Homo sapiens: one gene and its partners. The protein of the gene in region 1 binds, or shares a complex with, the protein of each later gene. Each region holds a gene or a part of one and is shown in the gene's direction. Other genes may lie near its edges.

Region 1 (7,684 bases):
GCCAGAATCAGATTTCAGATTTGTACACAAGGCCTGAAGCTCGCTCACCTCCCTGTCATCTGTGTTTCTGAGATTCTCCGGACCTGCAGCACTTTTACTTAAATGGCCCTGAGGGGATTCCTGGCAACATCTGTCCCCCCTCCCCACCCCAGACACCCCCCACCACTAATGAGCGTGGCCCCTCTGAACTTCCCCAGCTCTTCACCCAATGTAGAAGAGCAGTGGTGCAGTGACCTGTGAAAGGGGCTTCACGTAGGAAGGGGGCGAGATGGGATCCTTCAGCAGGTGAAGGCCCAGAAGTACACAGACATTTATTCAGAAAGAATAAATTTGTAAGTATAATTCTTTGAGAAAGGAAAGACCAAATGATTTGTGGAAGGCCTGTCGACAGGCCCGCACTTGACCCCACCGTCCGTCCCCGCCCCCCACCCCTGCTGCTCCACTGACTGCCCTGCCCTGCTCGTCTGCTCGTCTGCTCTTGCTAATTAACCTCCCTTCGCCTTTCCTCTGCCTTAACTGTCGTGTTCTAGTCTGGAGAGATTATATGTTTTAATTTCTACTCCAGTCTATGAATTGGTGAATCAGCCAAGTGAATGCTTCAAAAACTGGGACTCTCAAAAGATTAAAAAATATATATATACAAACCGTGAAAAAGATAAACTCTGTCCCCTCCATCTCCCATTGGTTTCTGCCTCGGTGACTCCCCCCCTCTTGGCCTCAGTTTCCCTGTCAGAGAGGCAGGACCGTAGCACCTTTTTTCCGCATGACAACGCCCTCACCTCCCAGGGCCTAACAGGTACAGCAGGTGTGCTGTGTGTGCTGGTTCCATTTTTGGGCTATAGACCTGATGAGATACATACTCCACACAAGAGGCCTTTTCTTGCCCTCTAAAAACATAAACTCGAGAACCTTCCCTGGCTGTGCTTCTAATGAAGGCTAGTTTCTGAAAAACATACAGCATTTGGATCAGTGTAATGTGGTACAAAAATTAACATTCTGTTATGGTCCCCAGAAGCCAAAGGGTGTGTCCTTTACCTGTGGGACCAGTGACCCTGAATATAGATCATTCCATAAAGACCACGCAGGCCATCCCATGTGGCTGAGTTAAACTCAAGGAAAAGCTACAAAACCTTCAACCTCTACTTACCAGAGGGATCTGACCTCCCCTCCCCCTTAGATTATAAGGCCTTCTAGGGGGTGGAATCTTATTTGATTCCTATTGCACATGGACCAACATGCACTAACATCATGAACTAGAAGTTTCATTGCTGCTAGCTGCAGTGCCTGGAGCATCGCACATACGACTTTTTTTTTTTTTTTTTTTTTTTTTTTTGACAGAGTCTCACTCTCGCCCTGGCTGGAGTGCAGTGGTGCCATCTCAGCTTACTGCAACCTCCGCCTCCCGGGTTCAAGCAATTCTCCTGCCTCAGCCTCCCTAGTAGCTGGGATTACAGGTGCATGCCACCATGCCCAGCTAGTTTTTTTGTGTGTTTTTAGTAGAGACGGGGTTTCACCATGTTGGCCAGACTGGTCTCCAACTCCTGACCTCAGGCAGTCTGCCCGCCTCAGCCTCCCAAAGTGCTGGGATTACAGGTGTGAGCCACCGCACCCGGGCTCCTGTAATGAACTATTATAAACACCACCACCTGTGCTCACTGGTTCTCTCAGTATGCTAGCAACTGAGTTAATTCCAAGTCAAACCATGGGACTGTTTTGTTCCACCCCAACCTCATAGTGACCTATCACTCCAGCCTCACCCCTACCCAGATGTTGATAGGACCAGGAGAAGCCTTTAGGAAGTGTTAGTATGTAGTGTGGGGGCTTCAAACCCATGAAAGATTAAATGAGCTGCATGCAACTTCTGGTACAGTCATGATTGCTAAGGCAATTTGCTAATCTGCCCCGATTGGGCGTGTCCTCAGGGCACATTTGGGAGGTTATAATTTGCAACTATGTTTATTCAGCTACCTCCAATCTTTGCACAGATCCGAACCCACAACTCCCTGAAGAACAGAATACTATGCTTTTTAGTCGGGATGTCTTTATGAAAGCAGTACTCCTAACTGACATGGTGCAATATGATTTTCTTTTCTTTTCAATCCCACTGCAGTGAGAAGGCAACCAAAGTGCAGGACATCAAAAACAACCTGAAAGAGGCGATTGAAGTACGTGCTGGCTCCTTGTGCTGTCTGTCTTGTAGCGCCCTCCCAGCCAGTGCTGTTCCCTGACCGCTTTGCTAAATCATTTTCAGACCATTGTGGCCGCCATGAGCAACCTGGTGCCCCCCGTGGAGCTGGCCAACCCCGAGAACCAGTTCAGAGTGGACTACATCCTGAGTGTGATGAACGTGCCTGACTTTGACTTCCCTCCCGTAAGCTACACCCCGACTTGTGTGGCCTTAGCCCCGCCCACCTGAGCACAGTGTCCATATAGGAACATGAGTGACAGCCCTGCACATGGGCAGGAGCATCCAAACCACACTTCAGGCAAAACTACATTTCAGTGATGTCCATCCTTAGGAAAAAGTTAATTTCATGTGTAACCTTAATTTAATAATAATAATCATTAGGGCTTTGTTCAAGATGGATGAGCAAAATTCTGTCACCCCTTCTACATCTTAGCTCACCTGTCCTCACAAATAAACATCACTCTTGAATACTACAATCTCACTTTATTAGATTGTAAATTTTTATGAGGAAAAAGGTCCTGAGCTATGGCAGGCTTAATTATTCCCTCATTCACATCTTAGGACAAAACTGTATGTTAAATATGGCACACAAATACTAATTGTCCATTTACTCCACTGGAAGTGCCCTAAGGTACCTTGGGATGCCTCAGTGAAGTGCCAAATGGAAGACATTCTCATTTTAAACAGGTGACCTTTTTATTAAGAGTTTTCTAAAGTCCTTGGGGCAAATGAAATCTTTTCTCATTATTAAAAAAAATGAAATATATCTAAATCATAACTCAAAAATCATAAAATAGAACATATGGAAAAGACTTTCCTCTGGATGCACGACACTGTTGGCTCCCTAAAGAACTACTTTTAGGGAACAAAAAACTGTTCAAGCCCAAGCATATAAGTTTAGGCCCCTTCGTGGGGAGAATGGCTTATAAGCGGGGAACGGGAAACGAGATGGAAAGATGTATGCGTTTGTAAGACCCACAGGGAAGAGACTTGTCTACAGCTAAAACAATGAGTTATTGTTGCCTTTTGTCAGGCTTTCGTGGGAATTTGTGTTTGTATATTTTAGATGGACTTGGCTGCAAACTTAAATTGGAGAAATTTAGTGGTATATAGTTAGTATGGATAGCTAAACTTTTTAAATAGCATTATTTTGAAAAAAAAGCAATAAACACAATATGTATAATATAACCCACTGACTTTCTTGAAATATGATTCTATATTTAATAGGAAAAGGAAACAGCAGCCTATTAAAAATGTATCAGAACAATAACTTTTTATTAGTCCTACTAACATCTGAACTTTTATGTTCCTACCTACAAGTCCCCCATCATCATTTTTTTTGGTAAGATTCACATTTTCCCAGGAGGAAAATTTAGTCCCAGCACATCTTACAAATGAAGTTTCTTATTTTCACAACATTGAACCATTTATTGGCATATTCTAACACATTTAGTGTATATTCTTCCTAAACAATTCTGTGAAGAAACTAAATTACTCAGTAGCTTACCCCATTCCCCCTACACACGAGAAAAGAAACTACCCAAAACCAGTAATTCACAATAAGACCCAGCAGCTAATTGCGTGAACTTTTGAATATGTTTAACGTGTTGAATTAAAGTTCTTTGTGAGCATTAATTCATTAATTGGGCTCAAAATTCAAAATCACACCAAGTGTCGGTCACATAGGGAACTCTGGTCTCAGGGTTTGAATGACAGTGTTGTTGATTAGTTCAAGCTCTTGCCTTTCTCTAAACTTTCTTGTGTTCACTTTCAGGAATTCTATGAGCATGCCAAGGCTCTGTGGGAGGATGAAGGAGTGCGTGCCTGCTACGAACGCTCCAACGAGTACCAGCTGATTGACTGTGCCCAGTAGTAAGTAACCGCCACCCAACCCATCAGCACATAAAACAGACAAAAACAAGAAAACATGAAAACCTGTGATCCTGCTTTGAAAGTTACTTGTTGATGATTCCTTTCTTAGAAGCCAACCAGTTACCCCACTGGCAGAAAGTTCTAATCTGATTCAATTGTTTATTTATAAAGTCCTTAATTGCATTTTTTTTCTTTTAGTGCAGCGACATTATTTTACATAAACATTTAAAGCCTGTTAGAGCAAAATGATGATGAGTTTCATAGTATTCCTAATTAGTAGGAAGTAATTAATTGAATTGACCCTAAGCATTTAGGGAAATAGGGCTGTGCTCACATTTTGAATAATGTAAAAATACTATATTTTATTGCTGTAATTTTAAAACATAACAAAGAGGAATGGTGAAGACATAGCTACGCCTCCTCTCTCCTTGGTAGTTGTTGATTGATCTATTTCTGCTCTCAGGTAAGCGACTCTAGTAGCTGCCTAGTGTTACTAGATCCTAGTGACTCTAGGTAGAGTTTGTTTTTGTGTTGTCTTGACTTTTGAACTCTATTTCATATCCTTATTTATTCCTTCTCACCGGGTCTTGATTCAAGGATGGTAAGTGGTCAATGGATTTTAAATCCTAAACTGTACACCTAAGCAGTACAATACCGTGGTGGGGTTATTTTCAAATAAAACAAATTACTACCTGCGAGGAGGACAGGTTAAGGCCTGCAGTAGCAATGGGAAAAGCATCTTTCTCCAAAGTCACTCATAAAGGTGGGCTCACCTGGTTGGTGTGTTGGCAAATGAAGAAGGGGGAACTTAAAACACAGACTTTATTGCACAACTCTACCTGATGCCCAGGCTGCTTCCCTTGCTGCCTAACACCTGACTTACCATTGCCTCAGGGATCGCCCTCTGTCCCTGTCACCCACCATGGTCTCTCCCAGAGGACATCGTACCCGATAGCTAGAAAGTTGCCTTTGAAATAGTTTATGGCTTCCCTCATCTTGCACATGATATAGCAAGCATGTGGTGGTCAGGGTTATTTAAAAAATATGTAAACATTATTATTATTTTTTTGAAACGGAGTCTCACTCTGTCACCCAGGCTGGAGTGCAGTGGTGCGACCTTGGCTCACTGCAACCTCTGCCTCCTGGGTTCAAGTGATTCTCCTGCCTCAGCCTCCCGAGTAGCTGGGACTACAGGTGCCTGCCGCCACAACCAGCTAATTTTTGTATTTTTAGTAGAGATGGGGTTTCACCATATTGGCCAGGCTGGTCTCGAACTCCTGACCTTGTGATCCACCTGCCTCGGCCTCCCAAAGTGCTGGGATTACAGGCATGAGCCACCGTGCCCAGCCAAAAATGTAAAGATATCTTCTGTTTGTTGATGCTGCAGAAATGCACAAAGCAGTCTCAGTTAATGATATTCTGAAGTAGGAGTGTCCTGTGACTTGGGGCAGGGGAGTCTAGTAGAGGTTTGATGTTTTAGCCATCCTTATTACAAGTAGCTGAAACTCGGAACTGATTTTGCTATAGGAAGTATTAGCTAATCAGAACCAAGGTGCCAGGCTGACTCACCAAGGGCTAAGATTGCTTTACTTAGTAGCCTCAAGCCCAAGGAACTGATTGTGAAAACCACCTGAATAAACAGGAGGGAGGAAGAGGTAATACTGTTCATCTATAAATCATATAAGCCTCTGTTAGGGTCTGCGCAATCTATCAACCCCAGCCCTGCCTTCCCATAGGAAATTCCTTTATTTTCAATTGCCACATACATAGATATTCCACGGTTTAATATACAAGCAAATGTGTATATTTTTTCAAGGAACAGAAAAAAACAGTCCATCTTGGCTGGTCCCTATGGCCCCCAGCCCCCACTCCTTCTTCAACAAAGTCCCTGATTTTCTCAAAAGTTCGAACCAAAAGCTGGAAGCGCTAATTATAGTAACGCAAAACAAATGGAAATCCTGGAATTGTTTGCATTTTGTATTTTGGATCCAAGTCAGAAGTTAAGTACAGGTACAAGATTAAGAGAGTTTAACCACCCCAGTTTTGAATGCTGGGGGGGCAGGGAGACCCAGTTTCGTTAATTAACAGTAGCTTAGCCAGATTGTTGAATTTTGTCGGGTTTCGTTTTCTCTCTCAAATCATTTAGAAGTTTTTGGGGTTTTTTTAAGCAACACTTAATTACTCCTGAAACTTTGTCTGAAAACGCACCATTTGTATAGATCATGAAAAGTTTTAAGGAAACTCAGAGAAAAAGAGAACAACGCAGCTTAAAACTTTTAAAATGTCCTCCCTCACCCGTGGCTCAAACAGCCCTGCATCTGCCGTGGCCGGCACGTTTCTGGTTGAACTGCCTTTATGTTAAAGTTCAGATACTGGTAGTGTGCCCATTTCTTAAGCTGTCTATTTTTATTTGTTGAGCTGGGGTTTGGCTGGCTCCACTCCAGATGTCTCTCTCACAAGATTTGGTGCTGATGATCTATTTATAGAACTGTGGTTCTGTTGCCATGGTAACATGCTGGAGGCCAGGGCGGCTGGGGAGCTATTTCTGGACTGGTGCTGTAATGTAAGATTGATTGGGCAAGTTAGTATATCCTCTAAGCCAGACTAACTCTGAACTAGTAAAAAGGAAGAGGGGAACAGAAAACTTAGGCAGTTTCTTTAAATAAACTTTTCTCTCTTTATGATTTTCTTTTCTCGTTAGCCCGCTTTAAAACAATTCCAATCTCTACATGCCCCTCCCTCCAAAAAATAACTGGTTTTAACATTAATTTTCCATATTAATTACCCCAATCTTTCAAAAGTAAATTTTCCTGTGTGTCTAGTCAAGCAACACAAACAAGATGCTTTTTTTAATGAAAAGCGTAATATCTGGAGTGTTCTATTTCATGGACCAAACAGAACGGAAGAGAACTTTGTGTTTGTTTCCTGTTCAGGATGGCTAGGGCGAGAAGGGCCCCTTTGTGCCAACCTCTTTTGTTCTCTTTAATCAATGAGATTCTTAAAAAGTAAAAAGGAAGGGATACAGATTCTCAGTAACTAAAACAATCTCGTGTGCCCTTGAGGGGAAAGTCCTTGATGTTTTTAAGAATGTCACTTTATTGTTTTTTAACTGAATGATATAGAGGTATACAATTTTCAAACTGTTTGCCATTTTAATCAAGCAATTTGAAAATTAAAATGTTTTTGTCAGGCATTACCAAATGGCACAGAATGTGATAGGCCAGCCTGGTTTTGGGGTCCTTTCTCTACTGGTTGATATGCATAAAACCTTCTAAAAATCAAGAATATTGCCAGAGAGCAACAGGAATAAAGAAGCTAAGTAAAGAATAAAAAAGAAAAATAGAAAAAATAAAAATAAACACGAAGAACAAAGCCCCACCACCGTGCTGTGCTGTTTGTGTGGCCCCACTGCGTCGAGGCCACAGGCTAGCTGCTAGACGCATCTAGAGTTCCCTGATTCCTAAAATTATTTATCTTAAATCCTGTTTGCCCTAACCTTCTTAAGGCATCAGCTTTGAGTTACAAATGTAACCAACACACAAGCAAATGTGCCATTGACTTAGTGCTGCATAACTGTGGGACGGTCACTTCCGTTGAGCCTGACCTTGTAGAGAGACACAAATA
Region 2 (8,483 bases), on another chromosome or scaffold:
GGCAGCCCTTAGTGAGTATGACGCTGGTGAAATGAACCAGATCAAGGCTCAAGTCTCCTGCTAGTGCCCTGTGTAACTGTGGACAACTTCACCTCTCTGAACCTCAGTTATCCCACCTGCAAAGATCATAACTTCAAACTCCATGTAATTGTCTCGAAGAATAAAATGAAATAGTACGGAAGGAGCTTCAAAGCACTTTGAACATGTAGGGTCTATTTGAGGATGCAGGGTGGGAGGAAGGGGAGGAGCAGAAAAGACAACTATTGAGTCCTGGGCTTAACACCAGAGTGATAAAATAATTTGTACAACAAACCCTGTGATAGGAGTTTACACATGTCACAAACCTTCACATATACCCCCGAACCTTTTTTTTTGAAAAAGAGAGAGAGAGAGAGAGAGACTCCAGCCTAGGTGACCCAGTAAGACTCTCTCTTTCTCAAAAAAAAAAAAAAAAAAAAAAGGTGGGGGGAGCCAGAGACCTTAACAGACACCTCACCAAAGAGATATCCTCATGGTACATATGCATCTGAAAGGATGCTCCACATTACATGTTATCAGGGAAATACAGATTAAAACACAAAAAGAGAGAGAGAGAGAGAAAAGAAAATGGGGGGCATGGCAGGTTGGAAGACTGCCTCTGTGTTCATTTTCAAATACACTAATTAATAGAAACAACTTTCTCATTAACATTCTCATAATCAGTAAAGTTGGTGCTCTAAGTTGTAATAGTATACATTCCTTCATAAACTCAATAAAGTTATTTTCACTCTTTATGAAAAAAATACATATGCCTTTAAATGTTATGATTTATTTCTCATGCAAAATAATGTTCATTAAGTGAATTAAACCCCAAATCTCAACTTTCCTGCAGTGTTCTGCATCCTGTGGACATGTGATGATAATAATGGTGCTTTGCTCCTTATCTAAATTTGTGGGGAACATTAATTGATGCTGAGCTTCCAGGATAGAAGCCCTTTGGAGTGGGGACTGCCCACCTGGCATGAGGGAGGTAGGAACATCCCCGATGTGTCTGGACATGCTGAAGAAGTAGGTACCATAGAGCACTGATGCCTGAGGATGAGGGGCACCCCTGGGGACAAGCAGAAACAGAAAGAAAGGAGATATTTTTAATAGAATTCATCTTCCTCAGCATGTGTCCCCAAAAGATTACACTCCATCCAACACCATGGATCTGGACAAACAATGTAGTGTATTCAGTGGCCCTTTGTGATTTCTGTCTCTTGTAGCAACAATCTTTCTTAATAAACAGCTTCATACATCTCACCAAGCACTTGCTGTCTTCCTGAGATGTCAGCACAAGCACCTGGATACCACCAGATAGACTTACACTTCCCAGTTGAACACTATACTGCTTATCCCCAAGAATCAAGAACAGGGAGCGTGTGTGTGTGTGTGTGTGTGTGTGTGTGTTTGTGTGTGTGTGTATGCGCATGCAGATGCCCAGAGAGAGAGAAAGAAAGAGACAGAGAGACCAGAATTTCTTGCCAGTGTGGGTCTTTTCAACGTAGTTTTGTAAGGTTCTGGACAGCTTGGCTGGCTGCAGTCCTGATATTATGAAACAGAATTGATTTGCAAGGATTTGAGCCAGGAGAGGGCACACCTGGGAGGCAGCTGTGAGATCAGCCAGAGCAAGGGTGCAAATGCTGAGGTATCTTGAAACCTACAGCAGAATAAAGGGTTGGGACAACCTGAACCAGAGCCAGAGTTTAGTGCTCCCTAATGGGGCTATTGAATTCATCAGGGCCAAGAGAGAACCATGTGCCAGCCTTTATCTTGAGAGAGGAAGGAGGTTCTGTGTGTATATGGAAAATTAAAGGTCTGCAGAGGAGATGTAGTGAATGTGTTAAACCTGAAATTACACAATGATTTAGAGCTGGATTCTCACTGAAATTTCTTTATTGCAACTATTCCAAAAAGATATCCACTATTTCAGGAGTTTCACTACACACTAAACTGACAAAGGGATTGTTTAGATGAGTGTTCTCAACCCTGAGTTTTCTTTCGGGTCTTTAGAAAATACCCACTCCAGACAAAATGAATCAGAATTTCTGGGTGAGGGATCCAAAGATGGGTAGTTTTAAAAACCCTTCCATGTAATTCTAATATGCAGCCAGGATTGAGAACTGCTGGCTTAGGCTGAGATGGGAATGAGATATCAAAGGAAGCTAGAGAAAGAAAGATTGTGGTTGAAAGGCTCTGATTCCTGGGCTTAGCCTCAGACAAGAAAAGTGTCCTCATGTTTATGCTTAAATAGTGCTAGAACAGAAAGAAGCAAGGCACCTCAGCCTGTGATAAGTTGGTCAAAGGGTTGGCAATAATGAATTTAATCTGTGACTACCAATCAGAAGCCAAACTCTGAAGACCCCAAAACATAAACAAAACCAGACAAGCTGGTGGATGAATAATACATTTGGTTGTATGTTTCAGTCAATGATCAAGGATTCACAGAATAGAAACCATTCAAGGTAGCGCAAGATTAGGAAGGTTTGTGGTAGAGACCCAAAATGTAATTTCAAGGCATCAAGGGATTTGGGCTCCCAGAGCCAGGAACCAGACACTCAGGGACTGAGGTCACTCCTTTCACCTCTTGGTCATTTGATCTTCTTCATCTCTGTTCCTCTTCACACATCTGCTTCATTCTTCCAGAGCAGTTGGCTTTCTCTGATTAAACACTTCACACAAGGTCCAACACACAAGTGGTTCAGCTCTAATTTATCACTGTCTTTCATGTCCAGAGCCCAACACTGACTCACCGTTGTTAACGTGTTTCTTAGTTCAAATTTTCAACAGAAAAGGATCTGGTCACTAGCCCAGCAAAGGATGGCTGATCGTATCTAGCTTCAGTTGAGGTGTCAATCTCCTCCCATATACTAGGGTATGTGTGGAAAATTTCATGTAGTTTACAGGCTGAACACTTTAGGAGACCATTGGAAGGGCAGGTGCTTATATAGTAGCTATAGGCAAGGCAAGTAAAGAAGTCCATCTAATTTCCATCCATAACTGATGAAACAGACATATTTTGCTTTCCCATCTTCTACCTTCCAAAATATGGGTGGATATAGGGGAGATAAGGAGGAGTTTGAAAGAACATGCTCTGTCTGCCCAGGACCTAGTCTAGCATCCAAAAGAGGTAACCACAGATTGGCATCACTCAAAGTCAGTCTACATATCCTCAACCATCATTTATGTACATGATTCTACATGTGTTGTCTTCCTCTGGAAATCACTGAGAAATCCATTCTTGGTAATGTTGAAGCCTAAGGATATTCAGAGATCCTGTGGTAGGTTCAATTTTAACCTCATACTTTCTGCTACATTGTGGCATGTGAAAATGGAACATACTTAGATATTAAGGAGGATTCTCCTCCCCTTGGGCTTTTATCTGATCATTTGGAAAATCCTCAGTTAACATGCTGTTACAGTGGTTTGACGGCTCACTTGACAGCTCTGAAATAACATTCTTGACTCTTAGATGACAATCTTGTACCGAAACACAAAACGGCTCTTTTCAGAAATTTAGAACTTCAGCCAAGTTTTGGGTTCAAGAAAATAGTGGTGTGTGGATTTTTTTAAGCTCTCCAAATGGATAAATTGTGTGTAAACTCACTTTCTGTCCAACATCAGCTATTGCACCAAATAATTGAACTGTCATATGTCCCTTGTTCTTGTAATTAAGTTGGCTGCATTGAGGCAGGAATAGTCTGGACTTGGGGGTCATGTTTAAAGGCAGCAACCTAGGGTAAACTTATCCTCCAACCCATGGACAGTCTGAATATCTTTTTTCCCCTCTTTGGAGCTAGAGGCAAAGTGAAGGGAGGAAAGGGTCCACAGGGAGAAGTAGGGGGAGCACTAGCAACAAATGTTGCCAATTTTCACTTTTCCCAGACCATGTGGTCCCTGAAAAGTATGGCTGTGGCCTCTGTGCAATGCCATCATGCCAATGTGCAATCATCTATTTTAGAACCTCAGATGGCATCAACTATTTTAGCTCTTGCCCAGGTACAGCTACTGCACATTCTGGGAGAAGAAAGAGAATAAGAAGACTAATATTCGTATCTTACTGACAAAACAAAACACCTTTAAAACAAAAGGATGATTTATCTGGGCTGAAAATAAAACTCCTGCCTACTGAAGTCTGGTGCAGCTGAGTTATCACGATTTTCGTCCTGTAATTTGTTTTATAGGGTACTAATTAACAGGGCAAAGTCTGAAGCCAAGAAAGTAAATCACATTTTGCTGTTTTCCTTTTCTCTAGCAAGATGCAGACCTGGTCTTTAATTAAAGCGCAAGTTCCAAGGGCGATATCAGCTACCGAAATCGGGAAAACATGGGCCGAAAAGGTCACAGTGAAACCTGCTGTGTAGAGTTCAGAAAAGATAATGGGAAAGAGAGGAATTGCACAGGCAACCTCCAAAAGAAGAGATTGTTTTCCTCAGATGTCCCTGTCTTATCCATCTTTTAACTGCTCCCCATAACTCAGAATTTCTTCCCTGACTCTACTCAACTGAGCATGTACCACAAACATCCTTTTTAAAAATTGGATTTCAGGCCTGGTGAGGTGGCTCACACCTGTAATAACAGCACTTTGGGAGGCCGAGGCGGGTGGATCACACGAGGTCAGGAGTTCGAGACCAGCCTGACCAACATGGCGAAACCCCATCTCTACAAAAATTAGCTGGGCGTGGTGGCGTACATCTGTAATTCCAGCTACTGGGGAGGCTGAGGCAGGAGAATCGCTAGAACCCAGGAGACAGAGGTTGCAGTGGGCCGAGATCGGGCGACTACACTCCAGCCTGGGCGACAGAGTGAGACTCTGTCTCAATAAATAAATAAATAAAATTTTTAAAAAGTGAATTTCTTTTCCCAGATAATTCCTGTTTCGGGAACGGCATTTTTTTTTAAAGGTAGCTACTTTCCCATCAAACACCCCTGTCCCAACCTCCCCCTTCTCCGGGGTTTCTTTTTTGACCTGATCCCTCAGTGATCTTTGACGCTGGGCTTTGCTGCCCGGCAGGTGTCACTCATCCTTCACCCCTCCCCTCCCAGCTCACCCTCTTCGCCGCCTGGTCTCAGGGTCTTCTTCACTCCTTTCTACCTCTCCTTGTCTCTCTCCCATCCCATTCCTGGAAGTTCTGGACTGGAGGTGGTTGCTCTGGCTTCTCCTCCCTCCTAGGACCCTCAGATAGTGTTGGGGGCAGGGGGAGTGCGGCGGGGAGGGCACAGGATGGGCTGGCGAGGAGAGTGAGTGCTGGGCTCGCACCGGGAGCCGGGAGCCTGACGTCACCACGCCCTGCCTGTCAATCTGCAGCGCGCGCCGCTCGCAGCCGCCTTTTCTGCCACCAACTGTATCTCTCACTCGCGGAGCCGGCACAGCGACAGGCGCCCCGCGCTTGCCTCCTCCCCGGCCCGGCCGCCTCCTGCAGGCAGCTGCTCTGTTTGCGCGGGGAGCTCAGCCCGGCGCCCCGCCTCGGCGCCCATGACCAGCGACTTCCAGAAGTCCTGACGCCCCAGGTGAGTGGCCGAGTTCCCAGGGAACTTTGAGGATGTGGGGAGAGGAGGGGAGAAAGATATCCAGGGGACAGGTCTTTCCAGAAGAGGAGAAATGGAGCCAACCTTGACTCCCACCCTCTGCTGCCCCCATACACACACCCTAGTCTCTCCTCCCAGACCCCCTTCGCAGGGGTCTCTGGGCTCCAGGACTCTCCAGGCTTCGCAATGCCAGAAACTTCGCTTTCAGCACCGCGGACAGCGTCTCTGCTGCCCAGCCCCATGGGGATGTCCTGGTCGCGCCGCCACAACCCAGGCGGGACTCTCCCAGGATGACACTCCTAGCTTGGTGCACTCGGGTGCGTGTGCAAATACAGGCAGCCTTGGAGAATTGATCCTTGTGCATGTGAGTGCATGTTGTCCTGGTGTATATCTGCAAAAACTCAGAAGTCCGCGTGGGCATTTCACTCACTCACTCAACAGGTATTTATTTTGGGTTCGCACTTAACCCATGATTCCCCGATTTGCTCTGGGGTCCCAGGGTGGGGTGGGCAACTCAAGTGGGGCAATGCGAGAGGAGGCTCTACGCGTGGGGAAGTTTCCTGGCAGCCTGAAGTGTACACCTGACGCCTGCACTCCCTCCCTATGCAGGGTGCAAATCCGGCCGCGATGAACGCGAGCGCCGCCTCGCTCAACGACTCCCAGGTGGTGGTAGTGGCGGCCGAAGGAGCGGCGGCGGCGGCCACAGCAGCAGGGGGGCCGGACACGGGCGAATGGGGACCCCCTGCTGCGGCGGCTCTAGGAGCCGGCGGCGGAGCTAATGGGTCTCTGGAGCTGTCCTCGCAGCTGTCGGCTGGGCCACCGGGACTCCTGCTGCCAGCGGTGAATCCGTGGGACGTGCTCCTGTGCGTGTCGGGGACAGTGATCGCTGGAGAAAACGCGCTGGTGGTGGCGCTCATCGCGTCCACTCCGGCGCTGCGCACGCCCATGTTCGTGCTGGTAGGCAGCCTGGCCACCGCTGACCTGTTGGCGGGCTGTGGCCTCATCTTGCACTTTGTGTTCCAGTACTTGGTGCCCTCGGAGACTGTGAGTCTGCTCACGGTGGGCTTCCTCGTGGCCTCCTTCGCCGCCTCTGTCAGCAGCCTGCTGGCCATTACGGTGGACCGCTACCTGTCCCTGTATAACGCGCTCACCTATTACTCGCGCCGGACCCTGTTGGGCGTGCACCTCCTGCTTGCCGCCACTTGGACCGTGTCCCTAGGCCTGGGGCTGCTGCCCGTGCTGGGCTGGAACTGCCTGGCAGAGCGCGCCGCCTGCAGCGTGGTGCGCCCGCTGGCGCGCAGCCACGTGGCTCTGCTCTCCGCCGCCTTCTTCATGGTCTTCGGCATCATGCTGCACCTGTACGTGCGCATCTGCCAGGTGGTCTGGCGCCACGCGCACCAGATCGCGCTGCAGCAGCACTGCCTGGCGCCACCCCATCTCGCTGCCACCAGAAAGGGTGTGGGTACACTGGCTGTGGTGCTGGGCACTTTCGGCGCCAGCTGGCTGCCCTTCGCCATCTATTGCGTGGTGGGCAGCCATGAGGACCCGGCGGTCTACACTTACGCCACCCTGCTGCCCGCCACCTACAACTCCATGATCAATCCCATCATCTATGCCTTCCGCAACCAGGAGATCCAGCGCGCCCTGTGGCTCCTGCTCTGTGGCTGTTTCCAGTCCAAAGTGCCCTTTCGTTCCAGGTCTCCCAGCGAGGTCTGAAGGGCTCGCCCCGTGTCCTCTCACCAACACCACACCCCAACAAGCCAGCCTTTGGTAAGCTCGGTGCCTGCTGACGAACTCTGAGATCCCAATGGTGTGAGTCTGACTTTGGAAAGAAAAAGGGACTAAAGAGAAATGTAACAAACTTACAAGGACAAAGAGGCTTGTTGGCACTTTACATATACAGTGTATACATGTGTACATATATATACAAATATTTGTATCTTCTGGAGGTGTTCAGGATGTGGAGCTTCCTATTCTGTGAAAAACCAAGAAAAAGATATGGTTGTATACTCAAATTGTACATCACGTTTGTCAAACGAAGACATTCCAATACTGCTTAATTATAGCACTTTATTTTTAGCTGCTGAACTGCCAAAACAGTGTTGCCATTTTCAAGGGCAGGGAAAAGGGAGTAAAAGGTGTATTTTTGTCGTATGTGATAGAATATTTTGCTGCACATGCATCAACAAATTACAACATGTTTTGTACACGAATAAACCCATTACAAGAATGTAATTTGGGGTATGTCACTGACTATAGAATTACAATTAGCTGAATTGTAAGTGTATGAGTGTCTTTCTTTCCTTTCTTTCTTCCTTTCTTTCTTTCTTGCTTGCTTGCTTTCTCTTGCTTTCTTTCTTTCTCTTTCGTTTGTTCGAGATAGAGTCTCACTCTGTCGCCCAGGCCTGAATGCAGTGGCACAATCATAGCTCAGTGCAGCCTTGAACTCCTGGGCCCAAGAAATCCTGCTTTAGCATCCCTAGTAGCTGGGACTACAGGCATGCCACAGCACTCACCTTACTTTATTTATTTTTTTAAGTTTTTAAAATTTCAGTAGTTTTGAGGGTACAGGTGCCTTTTTTGGTTACATAGATGAGTTCTTTAGTAGTGAATTCTGAGATTTTAGTGCACCTGTCACCTGAGCAGTGTACACTGTACCTGATATGTAATCTTTTATCCCTCACCTCCCTCCCAACCTCTCCCCACTGCAAGTCCCCACAGTCCATTATATCACTCTATATGGTTTTGTGTCCTCATAGCTTAGCTCCCACTTATAAGGGAGATCATATTGTATTTGATTTTTCATTCTTGAGTTACTTCACTTAGAATAATGGCCTCCAGCTTCATCCAGGTTGCTGAAAAAGACATTATTTCACTCCTTTTTATGGCTGAGTAGTATTCCATAGTATATCTATATCTATATCTATCTATCT
Region 3 (7,684 bases), on another chromosome or scaffold:
TAGATCCCATTTGTCAATTTTTGCTTTTGTTGCAATTGCTTTTGGTGTCCTTGTAATGAAATCTTTGTCCCTTCCTTTGTCCAGGAGGGTGTCGCCTAGGTTGCCTTCCAGGGCTTTTATAGCTTTGGGTTTCACATTCAAGTCTTTATTCCTTGAAGAGCTAAAATCAGAACTACCATTTGACCCAGCAATCCCATTACTGGGTATATACCCAGAGGAATATAAATCATTTTATTATAAGGATACATGCATGCATATGTTCACTGCAGTACTACTATTCACAATAGCAAAGACATGGAATCAGCCTAAATGCCCATCAATGACAGATGGGATTTTTAAATGTGGTACATATACACCATGGAATACTATATATATAATTCTTCCATAAAAAAGAATGAAATCGTGTATTTTACGGGAACATGAATGGAGTTGGAGGCTATTATCCTTAGCAAACTAACACAGGAACAGAAAATCAAATACCACATGTTCCCACTTATAAGTGGGAACTAAATGATGAGAACTGATGAACACAAAGAAGGAAACAGACACTGGGGTCTACTTCAGGGTGGAGAGTGAGAGGAGGAAGAGAAGCAGAAAAAATAACTATTGGGTACTAGCTTAATATGGGTCATGAAATAATCTGTGCAACAAACCCCTGTAACATGAGTTTATCTATAGAACAAACCTGGCACATGTACCCCTGAACCTAAAATCAAAGCTATAAAAAACTAAGAAAGACTGAATCCTGCACAGTTCCCAACGTATAGTCAACACAAAAGTTAGTCAACAAGTAGGTATTGAGGCTCTATTTAGGGGCTTAATGTCAAGAGATAAAAAATTCTGAAGAGCCAATTCCAGTGAGGTCACTCCTTCAGGATGATCCTGGGTGTCTATATGACAGAAAACACTTTGAGCAATAATTATTCTCACATAACAGTCTTACATGTGTTGAGACTGGGAGGAATAAAGGTATAACATGTATGTTTTTCTCCTTTTACACTTATTTTCACTCAACAAGCATTCATGAAGCCACTGCTATGTGCCAAGATATCATTTATGCAACCAAACTTTCAATGAGTATTTACTACATCCTCAGCACCTGGGCAGGCCAAGGACCTGTGGAGGGTGAAAAGAGAAAAGAAGGATATGCAATTAGAAAAATAAAGGCCCGGCGCGGTGGCTCATGCCTGTAATCCCAGCACTTTGGGAGGCCGAGGACAGTGAATCACTTAAGTTAGGAGTTCAAGACCAGCCTAGCAAACATGGTGAAACCCCTTCTCTACTAAAAATGCAAAAAAATTAGCTAGGCATGGTGGCAGGCACCTGTAATCCCAGCTACTTGGGACACTGAGGCATGAGAATTGCTGGAACCCGGGAGGCAGAGGCTGCAGTGAGCCGAGATCATACCACTGCACTCCAGTCTGGGCAACAGAGCGAGACTCCATCTCAAAACAAAAAAAAGAAAGAATAGAAAAAAAAGAAAAGAAAAGAAAATAGAAAATAAAGTGAAGCGTGGTCAGCACAAGGTTTAGAGATCTTCACAGCAGTAAAGGCAGGCAACAAACACAGCCACAAGGACATGATGACTGGGCCAAGTTGTGAAAATAAACAGGAACAGCCAGGAAGGGATCGAGGAGGAAAAACATCCCAGATTGACCACTGTGCTCACATTAGAACCAGGGTCTTATCTGATTCTTGGTCATGACTGGCCGTAGACCACCTTACTCACTGCTTGTGGGACACAGGAGTTATCTACCCAATGAGTTCCCATCTGCCAAAGGTAAAGAGTGTTTCTGAATATCACACCATCTTCTCCTATGGTTCTAATTCCTCCTGCTCTTCGCTTCCTGTAAACTAGACCAGGGGACAGCAAGCTATGGGCCAGGGACCAAATGCAGCCTACCTCCTGTTTTTGTAAATAAAATGTTATTATCATACAGCCATGCCCAATAGTTTCTTTGCTGTCTGTGGCTGTTTTCACACTACAAAGATAGAGTTTGATAATTACAACTGAAACTATATGGACCACAAAACTCAAAATATGTAATATCTGTCTTTCCCAGAAAAAAATTGCCAACCCTTGAGCTAGACTATAGCAGCCACACTCTCAGCTATTACCACCCTGGTTATCTGAACTCAGGAAGATGTGGTCCCTTAAAGGAAACTTGTAACACCCCAGGAGTGAGTGGGAGAAGTGAGGGCAGAAACTGGAATTGGATGAGAAAGACTGTGGAAGAAGGGCCCCACTGGACAAATCTCATCGTAGAGGAAAGACGTTCTCTCTGCTGAGTGATTTGGGACTGGTATAGCAGGAAGTTATGAAGATACTGCCGCTTGTCAGAGGATTGAAATTCCTTTTCACAATAAGATTGTTTTCACTCTGCCTACAAGAAAAAACAAATGTGCAGCAGAGAGTTCTTTTTATAAAGCATCATCATGCAAGAGGAAGGCTACATCTCAGGTTTTTCAGCTGGGAGGACACATACAATTCAAATCAGTCCTGATGGCCCTCAGTGGGACTGGAACCACCTGAAGTAAAGAACATAATCCATATCCCACACGCCTCCAGATCCCTGTCGCTGGCAGCCTAATGATTAATGCTTACACCAGAAAGACGTTTCATTGACTGCCTTAGAGTCCCACGAGCACGGTGCAGTCAATAAATATTTATTGAATGTATTTTCCTTGGGTTTGCAGCACTTGCTCCGTAATATCTTATAACCAAATAAGCAAGAATTGCTCAGGCTGGTTCCAGATAAATATATAAATGTATGTTAATGAATCCTAGCTAGAAGTGGGGAGTAGGAAAGAAAATATTCATCCATCTGTGTACAGGTTATCCAAATGGTACTAGCTTTTGGGTGAATAAGAAAAAAACATGTTAAACGAGCCCCAGAAATGAGGATTGCAAGAGAGGGATAGAAGAAAGGAGGAAAGAGAGGAAAGGAGGGAAGGAAGGAGGGAGGGAGATTTATAAACACCTCTGTTTTGAACAAATGAACATATATACATTTTTTAAAGCCAGTCTTTTTTATTCTCTCTGGCTTTATGTGGGTAATACTTTCATCTGCCACTAAAATGGCTCCTACACTAAAGAACGGTAGAGAGTTAACTGAAGTGCGTTCCCAAATTGCAATTTTTGCAATAAGGATAAAATATGGCTTTCTGCCACCCATTTGGAGTTACAGTGCCAATACGCTGGTGCAATCCCCCGTAAGCCCAGTCACATTAGATTCTGAATGGTGTATCGCCAATTCGAGCATGGGGAGTGGTGTTAGGATTTGTTTATTTAAGACTGAGCATTTATCCTGAATGAGAAACAAATTAAAATCTTGCATTTGAGGTAATATTAAAAGAGGGCAATGTAATTACCACATTCTCCCCTGAGCATCCTCCTCAAGTTCCTGTGAAGCCTGAGAATGCACAGCTGCCAGTGAGGGTAGGAACTATGCAGTGCTGGAGGTGAGATAAGGCATCTTCACCGCTGCATTTGGGAAATAATCCAACAAGCAATCCTATGGTTTTAATACAAACACTCAAAGAGGTTCTGGCCATGACCATCTGGGTCCAGCCCTTCACTGAATTGGAAAGACGGCAACGATAATGGTTGAACAGGCCCACATGTGTTGGCTCTGATTCTGAGTTTCCCCCACCCACCGCACCCCATGATTGAAGAGGATACAGGGCTCCACCACTGTCAGGCATCAAGGAAGACACAGGTCTAGGGGAGAAATCAACACTTCTCAGGGTCCTTTTCAAGGGACTACCCCAGAGATGGAAGGTCATCTAGTCTATGGTGTCCTGGACCTGCCTTGGCAGTAGTCGTGGCCATTTTGGGGTAACCTAAAGAAAACAGACAATGTTTGATTTGTAACATATTGAGAGTTGTTTTTGCCCTTTTGATGACCTGCAGACAGCATTTGAGTGATAGGCTTTATAGTATCAACAGAACCAGGGAAACTTGCCCAGAGATTTATAGATTACTACACACCCCCAACATCATATCTTTTCCAAGTCTGTTCCTATAATTCCACTCTCTCCTCACTTTAAGACCACCTACCCACTTTCTAAAAGAGGCAGAAGAAAGAGTTTCTAGGAGTTTCCTTCCTGGGAGTTGTCATGACTTCTGATATAAAGGTTGGCATGAAGTGTCCTCCTAGTAGACATACTCTATACACTAAACACCTTCAGTGGCCCTTACAGACCAGAGAGGGAAATCCCAGGTCCCTAGCACAAAAATGCAGAGAAAAGTTTCTAAAGTTTACAGTGATAAGAGGATGCTCAAGGAAGCCTTCATGCAAACAAAGCCTAATCCTAACATGGAGAAACAAGAAAGCTCCAAACACTTCCTCCCGTTGGGGCAGGATGCTCAGCAGACTCACCCCAAATCCAGCACACCTGTCGAAGCCCCTCCAGTAGACCACCTGCCATTCCAGGGCTTGAGTGTCTCCGCAGCTCCCCTAAGACTCTAAGGTATTGATCCAATTACCACTTGAGGTCACTTATCCTACTGCTGTGTTTTGAGCTGCTTATTGATGCACCTTTTCTCCCTGGAGAAATTACAAGCTTATAGCCCAGAAGGAAACGCTGTGCTCTATGTGCGGCAGGTGTCCAGTGGGAATTTATTGAGCGCATACTGAATAAAATTGCTTTACTTGTAACCCTGGTCCTAATTCTGGTCTAGAGATCCTAGGAGTCCAAAGAATACAGTAAAAGAATTATGTGGAACGATGTGGAGCCAGCTGACAGCTCTGCTACTCTTTGCAGATTTTTGAAGTCTCCGTTGACCATTCTGTCGCATGGACGTCAGAGACACCTGACTGTCAGAGAATCAATGTGTGATTCTGAGGTTTTGTCAGATAATATTTAAATGCCAAAGGCCCTATAAGATATCATTCCTTCTCTTTTAAAAAATGCTTATTTTAAGGTATAGAGCTATAAACTTTGCAAGAAAAATATGCAGAGAGAGATGTCTTTTAAAATGAAAGAGGCAGAATTGATGTGCTTATCACTGATATGAAAGGCTGATATGAAATACTTATCCTTCAAATCTCTGCAACATCTCAGGGGCTGTGCACAAACTCAAACATGTGGACACATTCATTCAGATGACACTGTTTAGTGCCAGAGCCCAGGAATGAAGCGATGGAGGAATGGCTCCAGACATGAAGTCATCATTTGCTGTGCTCCCCTCTTCCTGCAATGAAGTGTCATCCATACTGGTCCTTTGTGCACTCTAGTCTGTCTGCCTCAGCAGGTGGAGACCGTCTTTCTCTTCACGAAGTATGTATAGTTAGCCATACACTGACTCCTAGATGCTCAAAGAATTGATGAAGATTTCTCCAGGAGCTGTTGTTTTTTGCTGACTTTAGGCCAATGCTTTGTCACAGAGACATGTTTACTTCCCCTCAAATTGTATGGACCGAGGTAGGACTGCTAATCTTTTATAATATCACATAAGGACTGAAAAAAAGTACTATTCTGATCACCATTATCCCTTAATCTAGAAAGAATGAAAGTCAGTCTTTACATTGAATAAATTTACAACATTGTTCTTATTTTTCTAATTTCACTTACCTGTACTTGGCTGTCCTGTCCCCAGCACAAGCATTTCAATGATGAAAATGTCTCTCCTTGAATGCTGCTAGATAGGTTCTGAAATACTGAAAAATCTAGCTGGCTTTTCTTACGCATGTTGGCATTGTATGGCATATCACAAAGCTTAAGGGTAGAATATGGAAAAGGAATTGGAAAATAATTGTACAAATCATCAGGAATCAAAGGGTTTCTATGAATTTTCTTATTGGCAGGAAAAATATGGAATCTCTGATACAGATTTTGGTGACCAGATCAGAACTTTGTTCTTTCTTCTCTGTTCCAGGTACATGGCCATCATACATCCCCTCCAGCCCCGGCTGTCAGCCACAGCCACCAAAGTGGTCATCTGTGTCATCTGGGTCCTGGCTCTCCTGCTGGCCTTCCCCCAGGGCTACTACTCAACCACAGAGACCATGCCCAGCAGAGTCGTGTGCATGATCGAATGGCCAGAGCATCCGAACAAGATTTATGAGAAAGTGTGAGTAGAGATGACTCCCCATGCCAAAGAAACGATGGTGCAGGCTGCCTTCCTGGCCCCTTCTTGCTCTTTCTTTCTTTCCATATTCTTTTGTTGGTACAGATTTAATGTGTATCTGCAAGCATTTCTCACATATACCCTCATATCAGGTTGATATGTCCACAGTTGTCAGGGGACTATAGTATCCCAAATACTATTCTGAGCATTGAAAGATAATTTTTGAAGTGTAAGATCTAGATCCTGTTATAGCAGAGCCATATCCCTCGGGCCTTTTACCAGAGACATTACCCTGCCGGGATCTGCCTTTCTTTGCCTAGGAACTTTTTCCTAAGCTACAGAATGCCGCTCTTCTCTCCTGCACAGGTTGCAGGAAGGTGGGGAATTACCTCCCACTCCCAGCAGCTCTCAACAATGATTGAGGGGCTGCTCTGTCTATGGAGTAGCCATTCTTTTATACCTTTACCTTCTTCATAAACTTGCTTTCACTTTGCACTGCCAAAAAAAAAGAACAATGCCTAAGGGGAGCTGGCATCTGAACACCCATCTCTCACCCCTCAGGGGAGTGTGTCTCTGTGGTTTGTGTTTTACATCACGTCCGAGCTTTCCTTGTGGGATTAATCTCCACGGGTAGCTGCCTGGGTAATGTACTCTTTATTGGCCACTGCATCTTCCCTATATCACTGCTCCCTTTTCCTACTGGTGTTTCTTCTCCCGAATAAGGTACTTGCACTTGAAAATCTTGAGATAAGGATTCCCCTTTGCGGAAGACCAAAACAATACACCTACACCCAGGATTTTACAGCTGGAGAAATAGAATATGTGCAGGTGAAACACATGGGAAGGTCAGGCCAGGCATTGAGACCTTATGAGTTACAGGTCCCTGACAGGGCAGACATACTTATCTTCTAGGGGCCTGCCTGATCACATTTAGGGTTTCTCGAAGTATCCCAGCAATTTTCTCCAAGACTTCTTATCCTTGAAACAACATTGAAATGGCATATCTTTGTTTCATTCTGCTCAAGTGAGCCACAATGTGACATTTATATTACAGTTAGTTTTCTGGACTCAGAGCACATGGATAATGTGGATCTTTTTGAAAGCCCTCTATAATTCTCCAATCTCGGGTTTTTTATGTGAATCATAAAAGAACACTGGTGTTAGAATCAAAAGATCTGAATTTTAATTACAAGATTGCCAGTTACTGGCCATATGACCCTGGGCAAGGGTCACAGCCTCTCCTCGTTATTAAAATGAGAGATAATAGAGCTCTGTTTCCTATAAACAATTCTTGTGAAGATCAAACGAGATAATGTATTCTCACCTTGTAAGCTACTAAATGCCATACAAAAGGTATGAACCAAATTCATCAGATAGCAGTATAATTATGAGACCTTTAAACTTAAGTTAAAATGGGACACCATACCTGTCATTTCCCCCAAGCTTTGAGGGCTGAAAGCCTGTTGCACACAGTTACCCTGCTGCATCTGTTCCATGAGCATGGAAATGTAGCTTGCCAGAAAGCAATACATAAAGCTCAGACATCGCCTTCCAGACACAGACAGTGGGATTTAATCGATCAAGCAATGGAGGGATTAATGCTCAGCCTAG
Region 4 (7,684 bases), on another chromosome or scaffold:
TTTCAGTGGTTTTTTTCAAACTGATGCTAGATGTCCTTTTGAACTGAACAAATGATGCACTGAGACTTTCATGAATCAGAACCATTTTGATGGTTCAATCTGATTCAATATGAAGTATATAGTGAGAACACTGTGAAGCAATAATTACATCATTCATTCACTTTTTTGCTGATGATAATATGTTTTGTAGTGTTCATGTTTTAATAGTGTTCCTAAATTTTTTAAATCTAATTTCCTTTGTATGTGGTAACTACATACATTTTAAGGTTTTTGTTTTTTCTTTTAGAGATGGGGTCTTACTATGTTGCCCAGGCTGGTCTCAAACTCCTAGGCTCAAGTGATCCGTCCTGCCTCAGCATCCCAAAGTGCTAGGATTACAGGCGCGAGCTACTGCACCTGGCTGACCATTTTAAGTTTGAATGCTAACAGTGACCTTATAAATTCATATCACCTAGACTCAAGAGAGATGCATCCCTGCTATTAAATGCCTGTAATTATAAGATGGTAGCAACTAGCTTTGTTCTGCACGTCTTTTTAAAACCAAATTTTTTTTACTTTCAAAAAAATTACTTTTTAATTTACCTAGCTTCTTTCCCAAGTAGTTTTGTGCCTGGATATTATCAAGAAGGCTTTTTGTTCTTACCTCTTTTATATGATTGCTAATACTACCAATCTCTTCATTATATAATTTTCCACTTATAACTAACCTTTCTCATAGCCTTTACTAATGAAGTTTTTTTTTTTGCTATAAATCATACTTCAGTAAATTTAAGGATACAAAAGAAGAGAGCCATCAAGCAGTCACAATACCAGCATTAACCTAAGTCTATAGAAGAAAGGAAAGAGAAATGAAAAGGCAAAAATAATGTCACCCTGGCTCAGACTTTTAATCCCTATATGTAATTTCTCAGTGTATACTATTGTGTTTTTCCTACTGCCCCTTTCCTATTTATCCATATACAGTAGTATTCTCTTTTAGTTCCTGTATTTGAATGTCCAAAATCCTATAAGTTGAGAGTTGTAAGTGACCCTAAAGATCATATAGAGCTTCTTAACCTTTTTTATGACATTAACCCCTTCTCAAGATAAGAGAAGTTTTAATATTTAAATAAATAAAATGTGTAGGATTACAAAGAAAACAAATTATATTGAAATATAGCTCAGGTAAAGAACCCCCGAACCCTTCATTATACAGATGAAGAAACTGAAACCCAGAAAAGCTGCGATTTGTCCCTTTGAGCACTCTAATCTGATAGTCTTCTCTGTCTACATGGACCATAATGTCATCTTTAACTGGTTTTTTTTTAGGCCCTTGTCCTGATTGGATAAACAAGATAATATTTCTTATGATTTAGAATGCAATGTGTAAATTTCAGACTTTGCTACTTATTTGCAAACTTCATTTAGATAAAAATTAAACTGGGTGATTGTTTTACCTCTGTTTAGCTCTGTCTCTCTTTTTCCTTCTTACAAGTGCCTTGAATACAAAGTCTTGTTAGACCAAAAATAAAATCTCTGTGGCGCACACCTGTAGTCCCATCTACTCTGGAGGCTGAGGTGGGAGGATCACTTAAGCCCAAGAGTTGGAGGCTGCAGTGAGCTATGATCGTTCCACTGCACTCCAGTCTGGGCAACAGAGTGAGACTTCAACTCAACAAAACAAAATGAAAACAACAAAAACAAAGCAAAAGTTAACTCCCTAATCTTCAGTCTCTCTAGTGGTGCCACAATGATTTTATTATAATTCAAATTTGTGCAGTCCACTTTAGGGTTAAAATCCTTCATCATTTTCCCTAAAGCTGGGGAAAAAAAGACCTGGTTCTAGAGCACTCCAGGCCCTTCATGTGGGACCCTGGCTGCTTGTCCAGTCTCTCATCTTGTACCTTCCCACATTGCACACTCTGCTTCAGCCAACTGACCTATTTGGAGAATTCAAATCCATATTACTGTCCATCACCTCTGTATCTTTACACACACTCTATCCTCTGGTGAGCCGTCTGTCTACCTACCTTTCTTCACCTGCTCAATTCCTTCAGTTCTCAGTTAAAGCAATAACTGTTTTTAGCGAACCCTTCTTTCACCTTTCTCCTGAGCAAATTTAATCACCCCACTCTACACCCTTACAGTACTTATAATGTACAGTTGTTCTTATGCTATTTTACAGTGAATCTACATGTCTCTAGATTGAGAGTTTGTTGAAGGTAGGGATGGTGTTTTTTTTTCATCTGTATCCCTAATACTAAGTACAATGCCTCTGAGCATGGTAGAGGCTACATAAAAGCTAAATAAAGAAAAAGGTAGGATTTTATGTCCCAATAAGGTAGCAAAGGGAATTTTCCCTCCAAATCTTTACATTCCACTTCTATCATCTACAGTGTCCAAGTCAAAGACATACTAATATTTTTAGGTGGTTTACATATCATTCTTTTTCATTCTGTCTGAGCCTAGCTGTAATGAAATATATCAGTTGACATCCTCTATTTTGTTTCCCACATTAGCTCTACACATATTCATTAGAATTTGCTTAAAGAATTTGATTTTTAACCATTTCTAGTTATTTATATGAAGTAAAGGAATTCAACTTTTGATCGGACCGTTGGATTATAAGCTATATGAGTCAGTTTTTTTTTTTTCAAACATTGTACTTTAGTCCTTAAGTGTATATTCCAGTTGAGTACTAAATTATAGCTGCTTGTAACTTGGCTTTTACTAAAAATGTGTTTTATAGCTTCTCTAAAGATCAGATTGGGTTTTACACCTCCAACCCGATTACCTTTAGTTTCTGCTGGTTCCTATTGAATTTCCAGGATTCACTGTGAATTAGTGTTAGGATGAGGGGCTGAAAAATTGCCTGATGGCTATGGCAATGAATTGTACTCTCTTAGTCACTGAGAATTCCGTATAAGTCAAAAGATCTATCTCACTCCTTTTTTGTTCCTAGTTTTCATTTTGTAACAGCTAGCCTGTTTTATAGAATTTAAGCATTTATGGTCATTTTTAATCTGTGATTATATGAGATGGTTTAGAGCAGTGGTTCTTAAACTTTAGTTCATAGACCAGCAGCTTGTGAGCTTGTTGGAAATGCAAGCTCACAGACTCCTATCCCAACTTACTGAATCATGATCTCTGAAGATGGAGCGCAGCTGTGGTTTCACAAGCTGCCCAGGTGTTTCTTTTGAGTGTTAAAGTTCAAGACCCACTGGTTTAGAAGTTTGGATTGCAAATTTTTACTGTAAAAGACCAAATTATTTTGACTTTCCAGACCATACAGTCTCCGTCACAGCTATTCAACTTTGAAATTGTAGCACAGAAGCAGTCAGACAATATGCCAACAAATGAGTGTGGCTGTGTCTCAATAAAACTTTATTTACAAAAACAGGCAGTGGGCTATATTTGGCCCAGGGGCTACAGTTTGCTGAACCTTGGTTTAAAGTACTTGAAAATGTTTTAAGGATAGTATAGAATGAAATAAGTGGACATTATTGTGCATTCTTATGTTAATACATTAACTGAGTTATTTGTTACTTACTTTCCACATAAATTTTTTAAAGTAAAATTTATCACAAACCAAAAGGATCTGACTGGGACATCTTGGTTCTTTAGTTTTGTTTCAGAGATTGCTTAAAATGAGGGACTTCAGTTTTTTCCTAATTTTATTATGTGAACCTGAAATCATTTGTATTACAAAGAGTTAATTTACAATTCTGCATAGTAACGGGGCTTTGTAATGAAAAGGATGTACAGTCTAACTCTCCCAAGTGGAAAAACAAATGGCTACTGGTTTTCCATTGTGTTCCTTTTGTTTCATATCTAGAGCATTGTGAGATTGAGGTCCCTTGAGAGACTGATTTCATCCAGAAAGAGCTGAGACTGATCTAGGGAAAATGGAAACAGGAATGTTGTATTTTTCTTTTTCAATTGCCTTCATTGAGGTCTAGGCAAAAGCCAGGTCACGTATTGTGTTTGGAGCAGCAAGTGGTCATTCCCTTTTTAAACAGTCTAAAGGGAAGTGGGCCAAAAGAAAAAAAACAACTTTCCTTTCCACCTGTTAATATGTGCTGTTAGAATGTCTCTATTCAGTTAAAAATAAATGGAGAAAAACTGGATAAACAGACTTTTAAGGAAAATATCTATTTCTGTTGTATAGTGGCTTTTAAGCATTTTTATTTTCCTGCTTTTAGAAGAGTCCAGTCCCTTCCTGCTTTCACCTTTCTTCCATATTCTCTACCCTTGTATGTCCATACACAAATAAAGAAAATGTTTAGTGAGATTAACCTGTTTGTTTTTCAGGAAAGACTATCTGAAAATAACTGTAGCTATTCTGAAAGTAAGACATTAATCATATAAAATGAAATAAATAGTGAGAAGTGTTCCAAGCCAGTTGCGTGTATAATGACTACTGTTGTGTTTTAAAGGTAGAAACCTTCCTTCGTGATGTTGCATTGCAGTAGCAGGGAAAGTCCCTTGACTCCTTCTTTTGAAACTGCAGAATAAGGGCAGGCCTGTATGTGAAGAGAAAGGATATTTCTCCTGGGAGGCTCTGCTGATAAGCACAAGGTTCCTAGTCCATTCCTTAGTATTCCATGGGAAGACTGTTGTGATTATTTCCTTTCCCCAAGAATGTGGCATGTAAATAATGAAGCTTTATTACTCTAGGTTATATATTTGTCATGTGTTCATTCATATTTATTGAATATGTACCTGAATATGTAGCTCTCCCAGAATTACAGTTTTTCAAGTTCTAAGGTTTACATTAAAAAAGTAATTTATTCTAGACACATTCCTTTGTAGTATCAATCAGTTAATATGTACATTTGTCTAATTTCCAAAGGTACTCTCTTCTGGAGAAATGATTTAAATTTTCTAATGGTCCCTCACAAGAAATAGTTTAAAAATAACAAGTTTTCCATTATGGAAATAATGTAAATTCCTGCTTTTTGTTCTCTTGTATTCCAGGCTCCACTTTACATTTTTTAAAGAAGCTGACTTGCCTGAGATTGATCACATTCGTGAAAATAGGTAGCAAAATTTGCACCACTTTCCTATACAGTAGTCCATTGACATTCTCAAAGAATTTACTCAAGACTTTTGTAACCACTTAAACAGTATTTGCCCAGTGAAGTCTAACTGAAAACATTTAAGGGCCCCTTTAGACTTTAGTGAGCCTGTTGTTTTGCTAAGGTTCATCACTTTTTTTTTTTTTTTTTTTTTTTTTTTGAGACAGAGTCTCGTTCTGTCACCCAGGCTGGAGTGCAGTGGCGCCATCTCGCTCACTGCAAGCTCCCTCTCCTGGGTTCACGCCATTCTCCTGCCTCAGCCTCCCGAGTAGCTGGGACTACAGGCGCCCGTCACCAAGCCCGGCTAATTTTTTTGTATTTTTTTAGTAGAGACGGGGTTTAACCATGTTAGCCAGGATGGTCTCAATCTCCTGACCTCAAGATCCACCCACCTCGGCCTCCCAAAGTGCTGGGATTACAGGCGTGAGCCACCGCGCCTGGCCCCAGGTTCATCACTTTTTTTAATGACATTTTAAATTTCCTTCACTCAGTTTTAATCACCATCACTGTAAATCGACTTTGTTTTTGGTGCCAATTTAGAGCAAGAAATATAGCTTTTCTCACTGCATGGGAGTTACTGTGTATGTCACCATGAGTAGAAAGCACAAATCCTGAGCTTAGGATCAGAGGCTTTGGAGTCACTTGGTCTTGTTCACTGGTGATGTGGCTTGCTTCCATGTACCAGTGGGATTCTGATTCATGCTTCAGAAAAGTGACAAACGTTTATGTATCCCATATTTTCAGTACTCAGGGAAGCAAGGCACTGCCAAGATACTGCCACAGGACCACTCTGCTTAGGTTATGCTTTATATATTTTTAAGAAACCAAATAGTTCCTTCTTTTGACCCCTCTCAATTAAAATTCTAGCCCAGACTTTCCCTTCAGGATCTTACAGTGCCACCAACCCCAGGCCCATATTATGGTTCCTTTCATTATCATATTATTATAGCATCAGGAGCTAGCTGGTCCTTTCCCTGTATATTTCACTGAGACTAGCTGGTGTTTATTCATTCAACAAATATTTGAATGCCTAAATAAATAAATATTTGAAGCACTGTTCAGATACTTGACATACAGTAATGCACAAACAGACCTATATGCCCTCACAGAATTTATATTCTAGTGGAGGGAATGTAAAACAACCTATCTGTTTTTGTCATTGTACTTTCAGTTCTACTTTTTGACAAAGGCTTATTTTCTTAGATTACTTTTTTGCCCTTGTTTACTCATTTCCAAAAAATACTTTTAGACTTATTTTAATATTATTTTGCCCTGGTCATTCTTTCATTGATTTTATATAGCTCTTAATTCTTTTAACTCTGAAGAAGGAGCCTCCTTTCCTTGTGTTCTAAGGTGTGTTTTTTTTTTTTCATGTCCTTTCCATCTTAGGGTACCCAGACTGGTTAAGCAGAAAAGGAATTGATTATAAGAGTAGCAGGTAGCTCATAGAATCGCCAGGTGGGCTAGAATTCAAGCTCAGGCTGTAAGGAAACATGCTACAGCTAAGATGCTGGCACAGGTATGGTCTACTTGGGAACTTATAAGCAAGGGATTTCAGTGAGGACAACTCTTGGATGGAAATTATCCAGGATACTTCTTAACCTGACACTAGATAGTTGGTTGATCCTGCTGGAACATGATACCATATTGAGGGCTTAAGGTTGGTTACTGCTCTGCTTCTGGCAAATGAACTACTCAGCAGTAGCCAGATCACCCCAAGAAGGAAAAGTCTATGCTATTGGATCTGGGCACTCTTCTGCCACCATGGCCGTTTTGTTCCTGAGCCTGTTAAGCCTATACTGGTGCAACTAGAGAAAAGGCTGATTGACATCCACAGAGTAGATTATTTAGTCTACACATTTAAGAGCCTCCTCTGTCTTGGGGCCTTTGGGTTTGCATTCACATGCAAAAAAAATTTTTTTTGAGATTATAGGCCCATTTTGGAGAAGTCCAGTCACACACTGCTTTTCCGGACTCCTAATACCAGTTCTGTAGAACTCTTCCAAGCTCTTGTTGCTTGCAAGTCCCTATCTTGTTGTACCATTAGCTATAGCCCATGAATCAATATAACTTCTTACCTGAGACCATCTTTCTACTGATAACATAGACAGTGATTGAAGTTCTGCCTGCTAGGGCCACCTCTGAATGGAGTTATAATCCTATAGTAGCTCACTTACAATAGCTGGGGCCAGCTATTGTAAGCCAGGCTGTAATTGTTTCTTCATGAGTCATTTGGTGAGAGGGAACTCTGCTTGAAGACGTAGGTGTGTTTTAAGGAAAGAATTATAATATGGCAGAAGCAGGCATTCTGAGAATGCAAGCAATATGCTACTTTCCCGTATCTTTGAGATCTATCCAGCCACTTGAAGATGGAATGCAGTTGGTCCCTGACATCATGAGTAGGTGAGTTCAGTAACACTCAATTCATGAGAGGTAACTTGACCTGATGATCTCTAGATGTTCTCTCCTGTTTAGTTTCTATGAGGAACTAGTAGCAAAAGCCAAGGTCCCTTTTAATTATGTAGGGTTAATCTCCTCATCTGCACTTGTATCTTACTATGGCATCTAGGGTACATGTCTATGGCCTCATCAGCTTTATGTCTTTGATAAGTTAGATTAGTGTGATG

Evidence for each region.
Region 2: the proteins of GNAS (region 1) and GPR6 are in contact, whole or in part, in a cryo-EM structure (PDB 8TYW), measured with the Homo sapiens proteins. Residues at the interface, in NP_000507.1 of Homo sapiens: Gln35, Arg38, His41, Val217, Phe219, Asp323, Asp343, Leu346, Ser349, Thr350, Arg356, Tyr358, Cys359, Phe376, Arg380, Asp381, Ile383, Gln384, Arg385, His387, Leu388, Gln390, Tyr391, Glu392, Leu393, Leu394; in NP_005275.1 of Homo sapiens: Met107 (codon at 6,496), Asp165 (codon at 6,670), Arg166 (codon at 6,673), Ser169 (codon at 6,682), Leu170 (codon at 6,685), Ala173 (codon at 6,694), Leu174 (codon at 6,697), Thr175 (codon at 6,700), Tyr176 (codon at 6,703), Tyr177 (codon at 6,706), Leu182 (codon at 6,721), Ile248 (codon at 6,919), Val252 (codon at 6,931), Arg254 (codon at 6,937), His255 (codon at 6,940), Ala256 (codon at 6,943), Gln258 (codon at 6,949), Ile259 (codon at 6,952), Leu261 (codon at 6,958), Gln262 (codon at 6,961), Gln263 (codon at 6,964), His264 (codon at 6,967), Lys276 (codon at 7,003), Gly277 (codon at 7,006), Thr280 (codon at 7,015), Leu281 (codon at 7,018), Arg332 (codon at 7,171), Asn333 (codon at 7,174), Gln334 (codon at 7,177), Glu335 (codon at 7,180).
Region 3: the proteins of GNAS (region 1) and TACR1 are in contact, whole or in part, in a cryo-EM structure (PDB 7RMH), measured with the Homo sapiens proteins. Residues at the interface, in NP_000507.1 of Homo sapiens: Arg38, His41, Val217, Phe219, Tyr358, Phe376, Cys379, Arg380, Ile383, Gln384, Arg385, His387, Leu388, Gln390, Tyr391, Glu392, Leu393, Leu394; in NP_001049.1 of Homo sapiens: Met63, Thr67, Asn68, Asp129, Arg130, Ala133 (codon at 5,889), Ile134 (codon at 5,892), Ile135 (codon at 5,895), Pro137 (codon at 5,901), Leu138 (codon at 5,904), Gln139 (codon at 5,907), Pro140 (codon at 5,910), Arg141 (codon at 5,913), Leu223, Gln239, Ala242, Lys243, Val246, Met249, Leu308, Asn309, Phe312.
Region 4: the proteins of GNAS (region 1) and FZD6 are in contact, whole or in part, in a cryo-EM structure (PDB 8JHB), measured with the Homo sapiens proteins. Residues at the interface, in NP_000507.1 of Homo sapiens: Gln384, Leu388, Gln390, Tyr391, Glu392, Leu393, Leu394; in NP_001158087.1 of Homo sapiens: Arg226, Ala310, Lys314, Ser316, Cys317, Val396, Gln407, Lys409, Leu410, Phe413.

The regions. Positions count from the first base shown.
Region 1 is NC_000020.11:58,901,421-58,909,104, forward strand, and holds part of GNAS (protein GNAS), read left to right. Parts: intron 1-2,107; coding exon of another isoform or gene 2,108-2,110; coding exon 2,111-2,165; intron 2,166-2,251; coding exon 2,252-2,371; intron 2,372-3,962; coding exon 3,963-4,060; intron 4,061-7,684. UniProt on the Homo sapiens protein: Guanine nucleotide-binding proteins (G proteins) function as transducers in numerous signaling pathways controlled by G protein-coupled receptors (GPCRs).
Region 2 is NC_000006.12:109,972,936-109,981,418, forward strand, and holds GPR6 (G-protein coupled receptor 6), read left to right. Parts: upstream 1-5,375; 5' UTR 5,376-5,532; intron 5,533-5,758; exon of another isoform or gene 5,759-5,840; coding exon of another isoform or gene 5,841-5,867; intron 5,868-6,159; coding exon of another isoform or gene 6,160-6,177; coding exon 6,178-7,266; 3' UTR 7,267-7,785; downstream 7,786-8,483. UniProt on the Homo sapiens protein: Orphan receptor with constitutive G(s) signaling activity that activate cyclic AMP. Promotes neurite outgrowth and blocks myelin inhibition in neurons.
Region 3 is NC_000002.12:75,118,966-75,126,649, reverse strand, and holds part of TACR1 (substance-P receptor), read left to right. Parts: intron 1-5,881; coding exon 5,882-6,076; intron 6,077-7,684. UniProt on the Homo sapiens protein: This is a receptor for the tachykinin neuropeptide substance P. It is probably associated with G proteins that activate a phosphatidylinositol-calcium second messenger system.
Region 4 is NC_000008.11:103,301,305-103,308,988, forward strand, and holds part of FZD6 (frizzled-6 isoform a precursor), read left to right. Parts: intron 1-7,673; exon of another isoform or gene 7,674-7,684. UniProt on the Homo sapiens protein: Receptor for Wnt proteins.